Linked DNA regions of Homo sapiens: region 1 is linked to region 2. Evidence: fine-mapped expression QTL. Tissue or cell type: whole blood. Region 2 holds a variant in brackets; the other region holds the start of a gene. All regions are shown on one strand. Distances are between the middles of the regions.

Region 1 (8,107 bases), 64 kb after region 2:
CAGGTAGCTAAGCCTTAGCTCCCTTCTGCTCCCCTCCATGAAGGTGATTTTTTTTTAACCCAAATCTATGTCTTCATTCCTATTAATTTTTTTAAAGCTATATAGCCCATCATTGTACACATTAAGATCTTTGCAATTCTGACCCTGCTATCAAATATATGTTACATATGCCACGTCTTCATCAAAATCACTGGCACGGCAATAGAAGACCTTCACAAAGAGAAGAGCAGCAGGAGGAAAAATCAGAGGCAGTAAATGTAGATAACGTTTAGAGGTTCGCTGTAAGAGAGAAATGGGGTGGTAGCAGGACAGGGATTTGGTGGAGAGATCAAGTGGTTTTTAAAAAAATTCAAATATTTATAGGCTAATGGAAATCATCATTCAAATGTGAAGGAAAAACACGGTATGTAAAAACATGTCATAAGCTGTAAAGTTCAACATAAATATAATTTATTATATACATCCCCTTTTCTCTTGCCAGCCTATTTATGTTAAAATTTGATTTTTAGAGCCTCCAGCTCTTTCTGAATGTTCAGAGACCCTGCTCCCATGATCATATATCCTTTTTCTCTGAATATTTTGAAATCTGTGTCCAATAGCCCCTGCCTTTGCTGTTATGAATTCAAACATTACATGACCCCTTTCACCCAAATCCTGTTTTCGCATCAATCTCCTCCACTGTTCATGAGAATTTCTAAAAACCGATTTCAGATTCATTAAAGGAACCATTAAAGGCTTCGTCTAATAGGATTACATTTTTAAACATGAAAACCTAAGATTCACTTTTTTGAGTTTTATTGTATCCCTAAGCAAGTTAGCAAAACAAGATTTATTATTTGGTAAAATTATTCTCTAAGGCTGTAACATCCAATCCTGAAAATTTCTATGCAAAGCAAGAAGTGGCCGATACTAAACTCTTCCCCACCAGCACATCTGCATACATAATCACATCATCAACACAGGGCTTTCTCCTCTCCCAACCCCCACTCTGGGGCCAAACAAAAAGTTAGTGTGCACACACATAAAGCACATTTACAATGTCTGCTCCACAGCAGACCCTAGCTAGGCTGCTCCGCAAAGGTACTAAATATTTTGCTCCTAGTTCTAAGCTCACCATTTGAGTAAGTAATAAGAAAGCAACCGTGATCTGTGCATAAATACAAGACATGTTCCTTCAAAACTCCGTTTCTAAACACGAATTCTTTACCAGTTAAAATATAAAATGTGTTAGCCCCAGGCAAATGATTCTACACCCACCAATGCATTCGACTTAATGACAAAGACATATTTTTAAAGTACACTTGTTTATAAGATATCTCATAAAGTATACTACGTAAAGTATAGCACTTGCCAAAATATACTTTTAAAATACCAAAGTGCCTAAGAAAAAAATTGACTATTTGCTCTTTAAAGGGATAGGACAAATAAATGTTATTCAGAAATTCACACGTGCCAAACTGATAGTAGCACTGCAAAGCGAACAGGAAGGTTTCTAGTTTCATAAATCAATCCACAGCTTCAAAATGAGCCATCAGGTTCAACTCTAGGAAAACTATAAAGTTCTTTTGTCTTTATGTTCATTTCTATCAAACACCCTCAAAACAAATTTTCATGAATTTCACGTATTGGCCACAGCTGTTTTTCCACCAGGACCTGTCTGATAACTTTGTGTGTAATCTGAGCATTACTTTGCTTAGTGTCAACGTGCAGTAAGTCCTCAATAAACATGTCAAGAATTCTCCTCAATTCAAAATTATAAGAGCATCAAGGTCATAAAGATGCACTATTTTTTCTAAAACTAAAAAATTGTTAAACTCATTAAATCAAGATTATAATGTAAAATACCCAAGTATTCCAATTTTAAATCATTTTCTTAACACGAATAATTTTAACAGATTTATATCACCATTTCTGTTTCTAAAATAAATTCCTAAGTTCCTACTGCAACAGCAGAAGATTTAGATTTCATATAAACCCATAGGTTTAGAAACTACTGACAGGTAGGCTAACTTACAAAGATCCCAGCAGAAGCTATGCTTCATAGAGACGGATTTTTTTAAATCTGTTTTGTTCACTGCTGTTGCCTCTCCTTCACCAATGCCTTGACTGAGACTGGGCACACAGGATTTCAATTAATATTTGCTGGACTGAAAAACTGCGTATGTGTGAAGACCCTTGGTACAAAGCCAGACTTAAACCACCTGTAGGATCCCCCACCCTCACCCCCACCCCGAGAAAACCTGGAGCAAGCCCCTGTGGGACGGACACAGAATGACCCCTAGGGAATCAAGGAAAGGGAGGCTAAAACTCAAGGGGACTGACTTCACACCCAGTCTTCACACACTGCCCAAATGTGTTCATTTTGTTGCAGTGTCTGAAATCTCACCAACTGAGAGATTCCTCTAGGTTAACAAATCTCCTCTTTTCAGAATTAAGGAACCGTTTAAACCTGTCAACAACCTTAAGAGATGTACATTTCATCATTCCATTTTACAGATGAGCAAACAGGCTAAATGGCAGAGTTACTTTTACAGTGTCACACAATGGACGTAAAGCACAGGCCTGACTCAGAACCTTTAATCCTACAATGCTGCCTCCCCACTGAGAGGGGAACAGGACTAATCTTCATCCATACCTCAATACACATGAGTTAGTTTCCAATACCCTTCTACAGAAACACCTAAAACAAGCTTTCTCAAAGACGGGGCTTTTGTTTGGGGTGACAGGCAAGCAACAAGTAGCTGAAGCACACGAACACCGTGGAGGAAGGATCTGAAGTTCAGACCATGGATTTGGGGTGCCTGATGGAACCAAGCCTCAAAGACAAACCACAGATTTCACAACACTGCAGAGGACCAGCTCTTGCTCCACAACAGCTTGCCTCCCCTTCCTCTTTCTACCCTTCCACGTGACCCTCACGGTTCTCTCCACCAGAAAAGAGGCTACCATTGTTAGTTGCCAGTCTGGCAACACTGTGCATCTCAACCACAGTGACTGGCACAGAGCAGGAACGCAAATATTTACTGAATGAACCCAAGACAAAAGTTGTTTCTACGGCCAAGCTGGGACCCTAACTGCCATTTTTAACACAGTAGAGATGAGATATGCACCTTAAGCACCTGATTACTGGTGTAAAACGGACTTTTCAAAGCCTAGTCTGAGTTGCGGACAGGCTACAGTAAAAGCCTTATGTGATTATTTTTCCCCAGCCAGACTGTCTCAAAGAAGAAAACAGCTTAGCACTTTGGCATACAAATACAGACCTCAGAGGGGCATAATATGTTAGTATCTTAAGAGTGTACAAGCAAATCATGACTTTATTTAGGTTGCCTACTTTAGGTCATCCTAACATGAACAGCAGTTTAGAAAAGAAAAATCCCCTCTCAGCATTCTCAGGGTGACAATGAGGGTGGGGATAATGGCAGATATCTCCCAAAAGTTCAGCGTGGGCCAAAACCCAAAAAATCATATTCCACGATGTGCAAAAGGTTTCTTTCAAACCATGACTAATAATTTAAACAAATACATGTTTACACCAAATAATCAACTAAACAAAGTCCTTGTTCATAGGAAAACATGACATTAAGCCGAATGGTTTCAAAGACAATTCTTGAAAATTTTACCTATTTCCCTTTTGGTCGGCACCCGTGACCTGAAAAGCCTTGGCTAGTAGTTCCGATTAGTGTCAGATCCTCATAATGTGACATTTTCAGGCGTCAAATTACAGTAAAACTACTAGGGCAAGAACAAGAGCCAAAAGCAACAGGGAAGATGTCCATTTTCCATTTACACCCCCCCCCCAATTTACCACTTAAGAAAAACGGCACGTTTTTATATTAGAAAAGGGCCGCATCCTTCCAGATCTAGCGCAGCCTTAAGTCCGTGATTTGAGGAACCTGCCGCTTCCAAAATACAGGCTGAGACGTCCTCCCCATGAAGTAGTTTTGCGCTCTTGCACCACCTCCTTTGTCTACGCTGTCCCTGCAAACTCCTAGCTCAATGCCCTCCAGCAAACGAGCTGCCTGAACGCAAAGATGACCGTTCCAAGTCTTTTTTAAAAGAAGGGAAAAACCCAGTCACGCTCCTGGAGCCTGGTTCCCACGGGAGCAGGCCGGGCTGTCCACGACGGAAGCCTCGACCCTGGCTGGGGCTGTCGGCCGGGCAGCGCGGGAGAGCCAGGGCCAGAGCCGGGGCCGGGAACCCTAGTCCCGCCGCCTACGCGGGATGCAGCGACCACCGCCCGCCGCCCCCGGGCCGGCACTCACCTCCGTGGAGGGGCAGCGGCGCCAGCACCTGGCCGCGGACCTCGGCCTTGGGGGAGTCAAGCCCGTAGCGCCCGCGGTCGATGCGAAACGTGAGCGGGGCGCCGCGGCCGGGCTCCTGCACCGTCACGTTGATGAGCGCCGTGTAGTACTCCTGGCTCGCGTTGTCTGCCCGTGCCGGCCACAGGCTGCAGGTCAGCAGGGCGAGCGCGGCGAGCCGGGCAGGGCCCGCCCGCCCCGCGCAGCTCATCGTCCCTCCGGCAGCCGCCGCTGCTCGCGGACCGGGCTCCGGGGCCGGCGCCTAGAGGCGGGGCGGGCGCGGCCCGGGCGGCGGCGGGAGCGCGCGCGCGCGGCCTGCGCGGGGCCGAGCCCGAGCGCGGCCCTCCTGGACGCCGCGGCCCCGCCGCTCGCCGCCCTCACGTCCACTGCCCGCCTGTGGGGACGCGCCCATGGGCCCTCGGCGAGGGCGGCGTCTCAGGTCGCACGCGGGCGTCTCTTCGGGGTCCCAGGAGGGTTGTAGAAGCGTGCCCCCTCCATCCCCCCGGGTCGGTCCCACCGAATGGGAGGCGCCTCGCAAGGACGCGGCGGGGGAGGGGAAGGGCGGCACGGGAGGAAGCGCCCCGAGGAGGGTCAGCGGAACACAAAGTCCCTCTCGCGCGGCTGCCGCCTGAGGCGCGTGTCCGCCGCCGCCCCGCCCCCCCGCTGGTCTAGCGGCAACGCGCAGGCCTAAGGCGCAGTCCCGCCCCGAGCGCATGCGTGCCAGGGCCTGTCCGCTCCCGCCCGCCTGCACGAGGGCCCGGGCAGCCGGGTCAGCCGCTGGTGCTGGTTGTTTCTCTGTCAGGCGTGATAGCCGCAGGGCGTGGAGCCCGGGAGATTTGCGAGGACGTATGGAAATGTGTGAGAACAGACTACAAAGGAAAAAAAGCCATAACTTTAAAAGAAATGTTTAAAATTAAATGTCATGAGATTTAACATTCACGTCATGCGGTTGACATCATGGATGGGGGATGTCTCTGGCCCGGACCTGCAGGGACACGAGTGGTTGGGAAAGACCTCTAGGGTAGCCGTCCCTAACCATTTTGGCACTGGGGGACGGGTTTCCAGGAAGAGAGTTTTTCCAGGGACTGAGGGAGTTGAAGTGGTTTCCGGATGAGGCTGCTCCACCTCAGATCATCAGGCGTTAGATTCTCGTAAGAAGTGGGCAACCTAGGTCCCAAGCATGCGCAGTTCACAGCCGGGTTCACGTTGCTATGAGAGTCTAATGCCGCCCTGATCTGACAGGAGGCGGAGCTCAGGCGGTGATGCTCACTCACCTCCTGCTCGCTTACTGGTTCCTCGAAGGCCCTGGGCCGGTACAGGTCCGCGGCCGGGCGGTTGGGGAGCCCCTGCTCTAGTGACTAGGTGAACTACTCCAGGGGCCCCCGGACCAGAGGGTTGCAGTGGGAACCCCCCCTCCACCTTCCGAAACGCGCGCGCGCGCACACACACACGACTCTCATTTTCTCTCTCCATGGCGTTTAAAAGATACACATCGCTATAAAGTATCAGCTAAAAGGAAGAATGGGGCAGTGCAGCCGAATTCAGGAACTTACAGGATCTTTGTGGGGAGGCGGAGGGGGAAAGTTTGGCGTCTTCTGACCAGCCAGGGTTGAGTCTCCTGTCTCCTACTGCGGGAAGTGGGTGGAGTCAGCTTTGCACAACCAAATGTTCTGAAAATCCGGAAAAGAGGTGGCTCCCCAAAAAGAAATTTGAGGCACTGTTTCCAGGAAAGGGTACGGATGCAGTGCAGGCTAAAACTTAAGATGCCCACCACTGGCCAGGCGCGGTGGCTCACGCCCGTAATCGCAGCACTTTGGGAGGCCTAGGTGGGCGGATCACGAGGTCAGGAGTTCGAGACCAGCTTGGCCAACATGGTGAAACCCCGTCTCTACTAAAAATAAAAAAATTAGTCGTGGTGATGCGTGCCTGTAGTCCCAGCTACTCGGGAGGCTGAGGCAGGAGAATCGTTGGAACCCGGGAAGCGGAGGTTGCAGTGAGCAGAGATCGAGCCACTGCACTCCAGCCTGGGCGACAGAGCAAGACTCCGTCTCAGAAAAAGAAAAAAGAAAGAAAACAGATGTCCACTATTGATGACTTGGCAGACATCCTTTACAATTTCTCCCTCCATTTCCCTCTCTTCCATCCTCTACCATAGTCCTTATAAACCGTGCCCTGGCCTATGGAGAACGGCTTTTACTTATTTACTTATCCTCGGCAAGTACAGACCCTAGGCCAAAGCAGCGGGGTCCTCGCCCTGGGCCTGGCACCTAAAGAGTGCTCTAATCTGGTCCCCTCCAGCTGGACCCTTCATAGGGCAAGGAGTCCTTAGCACCAAGGTACCCATGCTCTAGCACCTAAGACCCAGAAATTCCTTCTCCCCACAGCCCAGGGCCACATCTAGGGCCTGTGTAGGGCTCTTCCCGGTGACGGTCTCCTGCTCTTCTTGCTGGGCATGCCCTGGCCTACCCCTGCCCAAGAGGCTCATGGCCTCTACTCCTTTGTCCTTATAAAGGAGGAGTCTTCAAACTGTAAGGTGCCCATGACCCCTGGCACAAGAAACAATTATAGAAGCTCACAAGCACCACTTTGTTAATCAGGTGGGGAGGAAGTGGCTTTCTCAACCCTTCTGAATTTGTCAAGGAGAAAATTGGTTCCAGAGCACCTTTAACACTTCCCTGGCACTTGCTGATCTCCCCTTTAAATAAAGCAAGATGAGGTCTCGGTGCACAGCCTCATCACGCACCAGCATGTACGGCAACATTCACACCAGCCTGTACTTGGGAGTGGCATTGTCTTTTAAGGAAACCTCAAGGTTTTAAGGAGACCTTAGGGAGACAAGAAGTTTTTCATTTATAATAGTGATACAACGCTACCTTTTAAAATATTATGGTAAAATACACATAACATAAAATTGTCCATCTTAACCATTTTTAAGCATATGGATCAGTGGCATTAAGTACATTCACATCGTTGTGTAACCTTTGCCATCCATCTCCAGAACTCTTTCCATCTTGTAAAACTGAAACTCTGCACCCATTAAACGTTCCCCCTTCCCCAACTACCATTCTTCTTTTCTGTCTCTATGATTTTGATGATTCTACTTACCCGCATAAGTGGAATCATATAGTATTTGTCCTTTTGTGAGTAGCTTATCTTGCTTTGCACGATGTCCTTGAGGTTCACCTCTGTTGAAGTACGTATCAGATTTCCTCCTTTGCTAAGGCTGAATCATATCACATTGTATGTATATTCCAAGTTTTTTTTTAGCCATTCATCCATTCCACTGTATGTATATAATACACTTTGTTTATCCATTCATCATAGGACACTTGGTTGCCTCTACTGTTTGGCTATTGTGAATAATGATGCTATGAACATTGGGCGTATAAATATCCCTTCCTGCTTTCAATTCTTTTGTGTATATACTCAGAAGTGGAATTACCAGATCTAATGGTAATTCTATGCTTAATTTTTTTCAGGAACTGCCCTACTGTTTTTTTAATAGTAGCTGCCCCATTTTACATTCCCACCAACTGCACAAGGGTTCCAGTTTCTTCTCATCCTTGCCAACACTTCTCTACTTCTTTTTCAAAATAGTAGCCATCTAAATGGGTATTAGGTGGTCTCTCATTATGGTTTTGATTTGCATTTCCCTAATGATTAGTGGTGCTGAACATCTTTTCATGTGCTTATTGGCCATGTGTATATCTTTACACGATGCTATCTTTTAAAACATTTAAGAAAAAAGTGAATTAAAAGTATTGGTTAAATAAAAGTACGAGTGGTTTTATCGGACATGGCAGGTC
Region 2 (8,000 bases):
ACCCCTGTACTCTCCCTCTGTTATTTTCATTAAGTTGTTTATTTATTGTTCAGGCTTTTTTTGCAAGGAGGACAAGTTCTAAGGATTTCTAATGGGTCATTTTCCTAAGGTAACTCAGATCTGGGTTGTTATTATTATTATTATTAAGGAATTTGAGGAGATTTTACAAGAATCTCATTGCTTCCATTCTGTTCAGATCAGAATTCTACCAAAGAGTTCTGAACAGAAAAGTTCCTGATGCTATTTGAGGCTTGGAGAATTAAAATCTTGCCTCCACAGGATGTCCAGGTAGGGTCTCTAATATTTCAGAGACAAGAAGGGCCTGAATTAGGCAAGCAGCAGTAGGTAAAGAAAGAAGAGCGCAAAGTCAAGAAAGATTTAGCAGGTAAAACCGACAGAACCTCATGACTGACATGGAGGCACGAAGAGGGGGGTTTGAGGAGAGGTGCCCCCAGACTTCTGGCTCGGTGATGAGCCGTGTGAGAGCGCCTGCCATCACACTGCATTATGGAATAGCCAAAAGCAGAGAGCAGGTGCTGGTGGAAGCAGTCCAGTCTTCAGCAAGCTGACGTGAATGCATGTAGGTTATCTAATCAGAGACCTACAAATATTTAGGTAGATCATATTTTCCACCTCTGAACTTTGAACACCTCTTATAGCACAAGGACAAAATATCTCTTCTCTGTGTTAGGTATTAATGTCAATACCTTCACTGTAATTTTTCTTTGGACTTGGCTTCAGTATTACTACCTTCTTCTGAATTATCCTTTGAGTTTTTAATCAGTCCTTTAACATTTCCCATCACTTTGCGACAGGTAAACCTGTGACAGGTATAAGTGTCTATGTATGTGTGTACAATTTGATCTCTTCCTGGAATCTGTCTAAAAGCCACTATTTTTTTAAAATTTTTCATTCTAAGTCTATTTGCATCCGGCTAACTCTCAAGTACCTACGATGAGGTACAAAATTCTTCCATGAAGATCACTTTTTATTAAAGTCTCTTACCTTCACCTAAACACCATGCCATTAAGTCACTGTTTTTCAAGGTGTGGTCCATGGGGCAGATGCATTAAATCTACCTTGAATGCTTAGTAATATATAATAATAAAATCTATACTAACTAAGGTTTATTCGGTACATACCATGTGCTAGGTACTGTTCTAAGCCCTTCACAAGTACTGACTCGTGTTATCGTCACAATCATTTTATGAGAAAAGAACTATAATATCCCATTTTACAGAAGAGGAGATTGAGGCAGAGATTAAATAATTTGCCCACATCAAAGGCTAGTAAGTAGGCCCTATCCAGACTTGCTGAATTAAGGGGAGGAACGATCTTGGAAATTTGCAATTTTAAAAAGTGCTCCAGCCCCTAAAAGGAGCTCTCACATGATTCTTTTGTATACTAAAGTTTGAGACTCACTAAATGAAGTACAAACCCTGGTTTCAAAGCATTTTCCCGTAATACGCTACCCACTCACTGATATTCTCCGTACTTCACACTGTGCCCTATTCCTTTAATAATAAAACTCCTCAAATTTACACCTCATCACACACAGAATGTTAGAAATGACAAAACCACAGAAAGGCATCATTTTACAAAGGAGAAAAACCAAGCCCCAGAAAGAGATGAGGAGATCTGTCTGAAGTTACTAAAAGTATTCGGACTAGGACCATAGATCTCCTTTCCACTTCAGTTCTTCCTCCACTATAAAATGCTGAAAAGACTTTCTATAGCATACAGCTTGAGGGGTTTGTTAGGGGCCAGATTATCTTATCTCATCTGGTCAAAGCTGCAACAATAAACACCATTCTATATTTGAAAGCAAAGTGACAAAATGTTTGAATTGGCAGAAAACAAGTTAAAACAATTCTTACGGCTTAATCTAATAGGAATAGTTGGTTCAAAGCCAAATGGTTCAGAGTATATTGAGGATAGGTCACTTTGATGAAATTCATCTCAGGTTTTGCCATTCGGCAATCAGAACTCTCTCACAGAATTAGAGTAAGTCTGTATCTGCACAGAGTAGGGTTTTCTTTTTGTAAACACTGGTGAAATCTAGGTATAAAATCTTTCCCCAATGCAAAGTGCCTTGTAGTCTGCACCCTCCTTCATTCATTCACCACCATTTTTTCCCATTTTTTTTTCTCAAAAGAAGCCTCTGTTAACTCTTTTGCAAGACACCATCTGCCTGTGCCCAGATCACTCCTCTCCTCTCTACATAACCTTATTTTATTAATATCATCTTCCTTTGCTCTTCAATATTTCCTCTTTTCATAGCTCCTTCTCCCTAAGTCTCTCGCACCAGAAAAGAATTGTATATCACTCCACTGCTAAAAAACCGTACTGATGGCCCGGCGTGGTGGCTCGTGCCTGTAATCCCAGCACTTTGGGAGGCCGAGGCGGGTGGATCACCTATGGTCAGGAGTTTGAAACCAGCCTGGCCAACATGGCGAAACCCCGTCTCTACTAAAAATACAAAAATTAGTCGGGCCTGGTGGTGGGCACCTGTAATTCCAGCTACTCAGGAGGCTGAGGCAGGAGAATGGTCTGAACCTGGGAGGCGGAGCTTGCAGTGAGCTGTTAATCGAGCCACTGTACTCCAGCCTGGGCGACAGAACAAGCCTCTGTCTCAGAAAAACAACAACAACAACACCAACAGAAACCATATTGATTATAGAATAAAGCCTAACTTTCTTATGTGATTCATGCCCTTCATAGTCTAGTGACAATTTATTCATCTAATATCAGCTCAACACTCACAAGTCTCCTGCCCACTATTCCTGATGTTTCAGTCATTCAACTCTTTCATCTCTCTGTGGAAAATGATCCATTTGCCTGACTCTCCTTCATCTCCATCTGATGAAGTCTTAATTCATCCTTTAAAATTCAGCTCCAAGGTCACAACCTACCTTCTCTGTGAAGTGTCCTTGACTCCCTGAGAGTAATATCACTCTGCCCCCAAAGAATAACTCCTATACCACACAGTATTTTGACTGCATCTGTCATTGCAACAGAAGGTAAGCTCATTCTTGAATTCATTGAAATATTTACTGAGGCAGTGTGATGTGCCAGGCCCCATGCTAAACCCCAAGGATATAGAAATGAATTATCTTGCAAACACTATGATCTTAAGAGCATATTTTGTGCTTTAAAAAAATCAGATCTTAAGCCCCTGACATGTAATATTTAGAAGGTATATAATACAGTCTCTGTATATGAAAAGTGTTATTTATTTACAAAATGGCAGGACATGAAAAACAAGGTATCAGAGTATTTGCAGTATTTTTTTAAAACTGGTAAGATAATAACTTCTCAGCTCAAACATCTATTTCCCCTTTCCAGTTCTTCTGGAATTGTTAATCCTTAAGAAACATAATGAACAAAATTCACTCTGCCATCTAAAATGACAAAAGAAGTCTGTTTTGGGGCCATATAATCCTTTTCTGTAGGACAAATCTTGGCAGTATATACAATACTTCCTCTCTTCCAATGTGGAAGAAAAAAAAAAACCTTTTGAACCCACCAGTTTTCAAAGATTAACTGTACTCATGCAAAGTTTTAACCTTTCTCTGACACAGGAATGTTCCATATATTTCCACATTCTGACAGGCAAATGCATTCTCCAATTAGCTACTGACCTTTCATGATGAAAATGGGCAATAAGAGTGTATTTCATTTCAGCAACCCTGAGATACTTATAAAGTCAAAGAATATTATATACACATGTTATGGCAAGAAGCTTTTACAAATTTTAAATACCTTAAAAAGCACATGCATTTTCACTGGGAAGTTTTAAGAATACATTCTAAATATTCAGGAGTCCATTAAGTGGCAGAATATTTTACATCTGCCCCGTTCCTAAACAGTAAAATGAAAATTTCATTGTTCTGCTTTAGAAATTAAATTTGACCACTTTGAAATTAAAGGTGCAATATTAACCATGTAACTGTTAAACATTTTACATTTTTCAGAAAATCCTTAAGCATTTATTCAAAATAAAGGTAACAAACATCTACCGTTTTGTGTAAAATAACTATCAGTGACTTAATTTGACAGCGACATTTAAGTTTACCATCAGTGGTAGTTTGAACTATCTACACCTATAGATAGTAATTAGATACATTCTGACAGTTTTCCAGGAAGAGCAAACCACAGACACTTAGTCATGAACTGAAAAGCCAAAGCATTAGATTCTTATATCACATGCAAAATGTTCTCAATTGTGAGCATTTTACTATGCTTAGAAAGTTATTTACAATATATGGATCTCTTTGGTAGCATGTTCTACAGGAAGAACTGCTTCATGATAACAGTTTGTGGGGGCCAGGTGTGGAGGTTCATGCCTGTCATTCCAGCACTTTGGGAGGCTGAGGCAGGAGGATCACATGAGGTAAGGAGTTTGAGACCAGCCTGGCCAACATGGTGAAATCCCAT[C/T]TCTACTAAAAATACAAAAATTAGCCAGGCATGGTGACACACATCTTTAGTCCCAGCTACGTGTGAGGCTGAGGCAGGAGAATTGCTTAAGCCGAGGAGGCAGAGGTTGCAGTGAGCCAAGATCGCGCCACTGCACTCCAGCCTGGGTGACAGAGTGAGACCCAGTCTCAAAAAACAAAAACAAAAACAGTTTGTGAGAGAAAATCAGAGTCTGTCCTTAAACTCACTGGTTTTCCTTTGCTAATATTATGGCTTCTCTTTTAAAATAGCCAAAGGTTTCAACCAGTCTAGCTGCTGCCACCTTCTTATTAAACTTTAATAAGCTAAGCTTTTTAAGCCACATAAAAATTTCATCAAGCATTTGTCAACCTTGGGGAAAACGGAAGGAGGAAAAAAGGTCAGAACATCACTTTCCACCACAGTAGCATCTGGAGAGACGCTTTGGAAGGATCCTGCATGCAGTCAGCCGCAAAATAAATGCTAGGAAACAAGCTCGCAGTTTGTGGCCTGCACCAGATGGTGATTATGTTTCCTCCTTCATCAGCCCCGGCCCCACACTGGGTGCTAATTAAAGCACTATCTTCCAATAGCAGGCTCCTGGGACAACCGTGAGCCTTTGTTCCAACGTCCTCAGGGTGAGCTACACCCAGTCCACTAACACAGGCTTGCCTGTCAACAACACCACTCCAGAGCAGCTCCTTCTCATTTTACTTTCAGTGTTTCGTATGTCAACATATTTTAAAAACAAATCTTTTAGTTTTTTTTTTTTTTTTTTTTAACAGGTATATTACATGTTATAGGAGGGAAAAGGAGGTGGGCTGCCTGGGGCCCTCAAGACATGAGAAACGGGTGGTGGCTTCCAAGCTTCCTTACTTCCCCCATAGATTCCTGACAATGTGCTGCAGAAGCCTCCAACCTGGAACAGCCAACAGGACCAGAGCAGCCCACCACCCGACCCCAGAAAAAGCCGAGAAAAGCCCAACTCCGCTAGCCAAAGTACCAAGAGAAGGATGGCCTAACATCAGAAAACACTTGCAGTAATATTCATTCTACTCCAGCCAGGCGCCAAGGGCAAAATCACAATCCTCCTCCCACCCTGGTCTCACAGAGCCCAGTGGGAATAGGCTCTCCCAGCCCGGCTCCTCAGGAAGAAAAGCTGTGCCCACTGGTCTAATTAACACCCAGAGAACATGCCACCCAACAGCAGAATATTTTTTCTAAGCACCAATGAAACACTGACTAAGACAAACTACATCCTACATCATAAAACAAACTTCAAGAAACAGAAGAGAACTGAAATCATAGAGTATTTCTCTGAGCATAATGGAATCAAACCAGAAATCAGTAACACTAAGATAATAGTAAAATCTTGGCAGGACACAGTGGCTCATGTCTGTAATCCCAGCACTTTGGGAGGCTGAGGTGCACAGATCGCTTGAGGTCAGGAGTTCAAGACCAGCCTGGGCAACACAGTGAAACCTCATCTCTACCAAAAAATACAAGTTAGCCGGACACGGTGGCATGCGCCTGTAATCGCAGCTACTCGGGAGGCAGAGGTCAGAGAATCACTTGAACCCGGGAGGTGGAGGTTGCAGTGAGCTGAGATCGTATCACTGCACTCCAGCCTGGGTGACAGAGTAAGACCCTCTCTCAAAAGGAAAAAAAAAAAAGTAAAATATCTAAACTACTGGAAATTCAATAACATACTTCTCAGTAATGTATGGGTAAAAGAAGAAGTCTCAAAAGAAAAAAATACATAGGACTGAATGAAAATGAAAATACAGCATATCAAAATATGTGAGGCATAGCCTTAAAGAAGTGCTGAGAGAGAAATTTATAGCACTTAATTCTTACATTAGAAAACAGGAAAGCCTTCAAATAAACTAATCACAGACTTAAATGTAAAACATAATATAAAACTTCCAGGAAAAATAGTAGAAAATCTTTGGGATATCTAGGGATAAGTAAAGAATTTTTAGACTTGACACCAAAAGCACAATTCATAAAAGAAAAAATTAATAAACCATAAAAATTAGAAATTTTTGCTTTTCAAAGACCTTGTTAAGAGGTTGAACAAAACAAAATACAGACTGGGAGATAATCTCTGCAAGCCACATATTTGACGAAGGACTTGTATCTGGAATACATAAAAAGCTCTCAAAATTCAACAGTGAAAAACAATCTAGGTAGAAAATGGGCAAAAGACATGAATGGATATTTCACTGAAGAGGATATACGGATGGCAAACAAGCACATAAAAAATGTCTAATTAGAGAAATGCAAACTAAAACCACAAGAGATGTTACTACACAACTCAACAATCACAAGAGATGAAAACACCAAGTGCTGTCGAGAGTGTGGAGGAACTGGATCAGTCATACATTTCTAGCAGGAATGCAAAATGGTATGGCCACTTTGCAAAATGAGTCTAACAGTTTCCTACAGAACTAAATATGCACTTATCTTAACAGCCCAAAAACTTCACTCTTGGAATTTACACTGAACTCAGAAATTACACATTTATCCCAGGGAAACGAAAACTCATGTTTACACCAAAACCTGTATGTGATTGTTCACAGCTGCTTTATTTGTAATAGCCAAAATCTGAAAACATCCCAGATATCCTTCAATGAGCGAGCAATTAAACAAACGGTGGTACATCCAAACCATGGGATATAGTTCGGCCATAAAAAGGAATAAATGACTGATACACATAACAACTTGAAAGTATCTTGGCCGGGCGCAGTGGCTCACGCCTGTAATCCCAGCACTTTGGGAGGCTGAGGTGGGCGGATCACAAGGTCAGGAGATCGAGACCATCCTGGCTAACACGGTGAAACCCCATCTCTACTAAAAATACAAAAAATTAGCCAGGCACGGTGGCAGGCACCTGTAGTCCCAGCTACTCCGGAGGCTGAGGCAGGAGAATGGCGTGAACCTGGGAGGCGGAGCTTGCAGTAAGCTGAGATCCAGCCGCTGCACTCCAGCCTCGGCGACAGTGAGACTACATCTCAAAAAAAAAAAAAAAAAAAAAAAAAAAAGTATCTCAAGGTAATTATGCTGAGTGAGGAAGTGAAGAATTCCAAACTCTAGAGGTTACATACTATATGATTCCACCTATATAACATTTTTTTCTTTATTTTTTTGAAACAGAGTCTCACTCTGTCACCCAGGCTGGAGTGCAGTGGTACGATCATGGCTCACTGCAGCCTCTGCCTCCCAAGTTCAAGCAATTCTCGTGCTTCAGCCTCCTGAATGGATGGGACTACAGGCGCATGGCACCTTGCCCAGCTACATTTTTGTATTTTTAGTGGAGATGGGGTTTGCCATGTTGGCCAGGCTGGTCTTGAACTCCTGACCTCAAGTGATCCACCTGCCTTGGCTTCCCAAAGTGCCGGGATTACAGGTGTGAGCCACCGTGCCTGGCCCATGATTCCACCTATTTAACATTCTTGAAATGACAAAACTATAGAGATGAGAAACAGATTCCTGGTAGATTAGGGAAGGGGGAAGGAGGGAGGTGGCTGTGGTTATAAAAGAGTAGCACAAGGGTTCCTTGTGAT

Evidence for each region. PIP is the estimated chance that this variant, and not a neighbour inherited with it, causes the effect.
Region 1: it holds the start of RNF130, and the variant in region 2 is fine-mapped to the expression of RNF130 in whole blood (INTERVAL, PIP above 0.99).

Annotation. Positions count from the first base shown.
Region 1 is chr5:180,067,191-180,075,297 of GRCh38, forward strand. RNF130 (ring finger protein 130) reads right to left here and starts at 4,569. Exons shown (of 9, transcript NM_018434.6): 1 at 4,266-4,569. The coding sequence starts at 4,512. RefSeq lists an enhancer at 4,243-4,950 and a silencer at 4,840-4,919.
Region 2 is chr5:180,002,795-180,010,794 of GRCh38, forward strand. The region is part of intron 3 of RNF130 (ring finger protein 130); the gene reads right to left. Among named protein-coding and RNA genes, the nearest start is that of MIR340, 8.6 kb to the right of the region's middle. RefSeq lists an enhancer at 4,756-5,257. The variant C/T (reference allele first, on the strand shown) is at 4,438.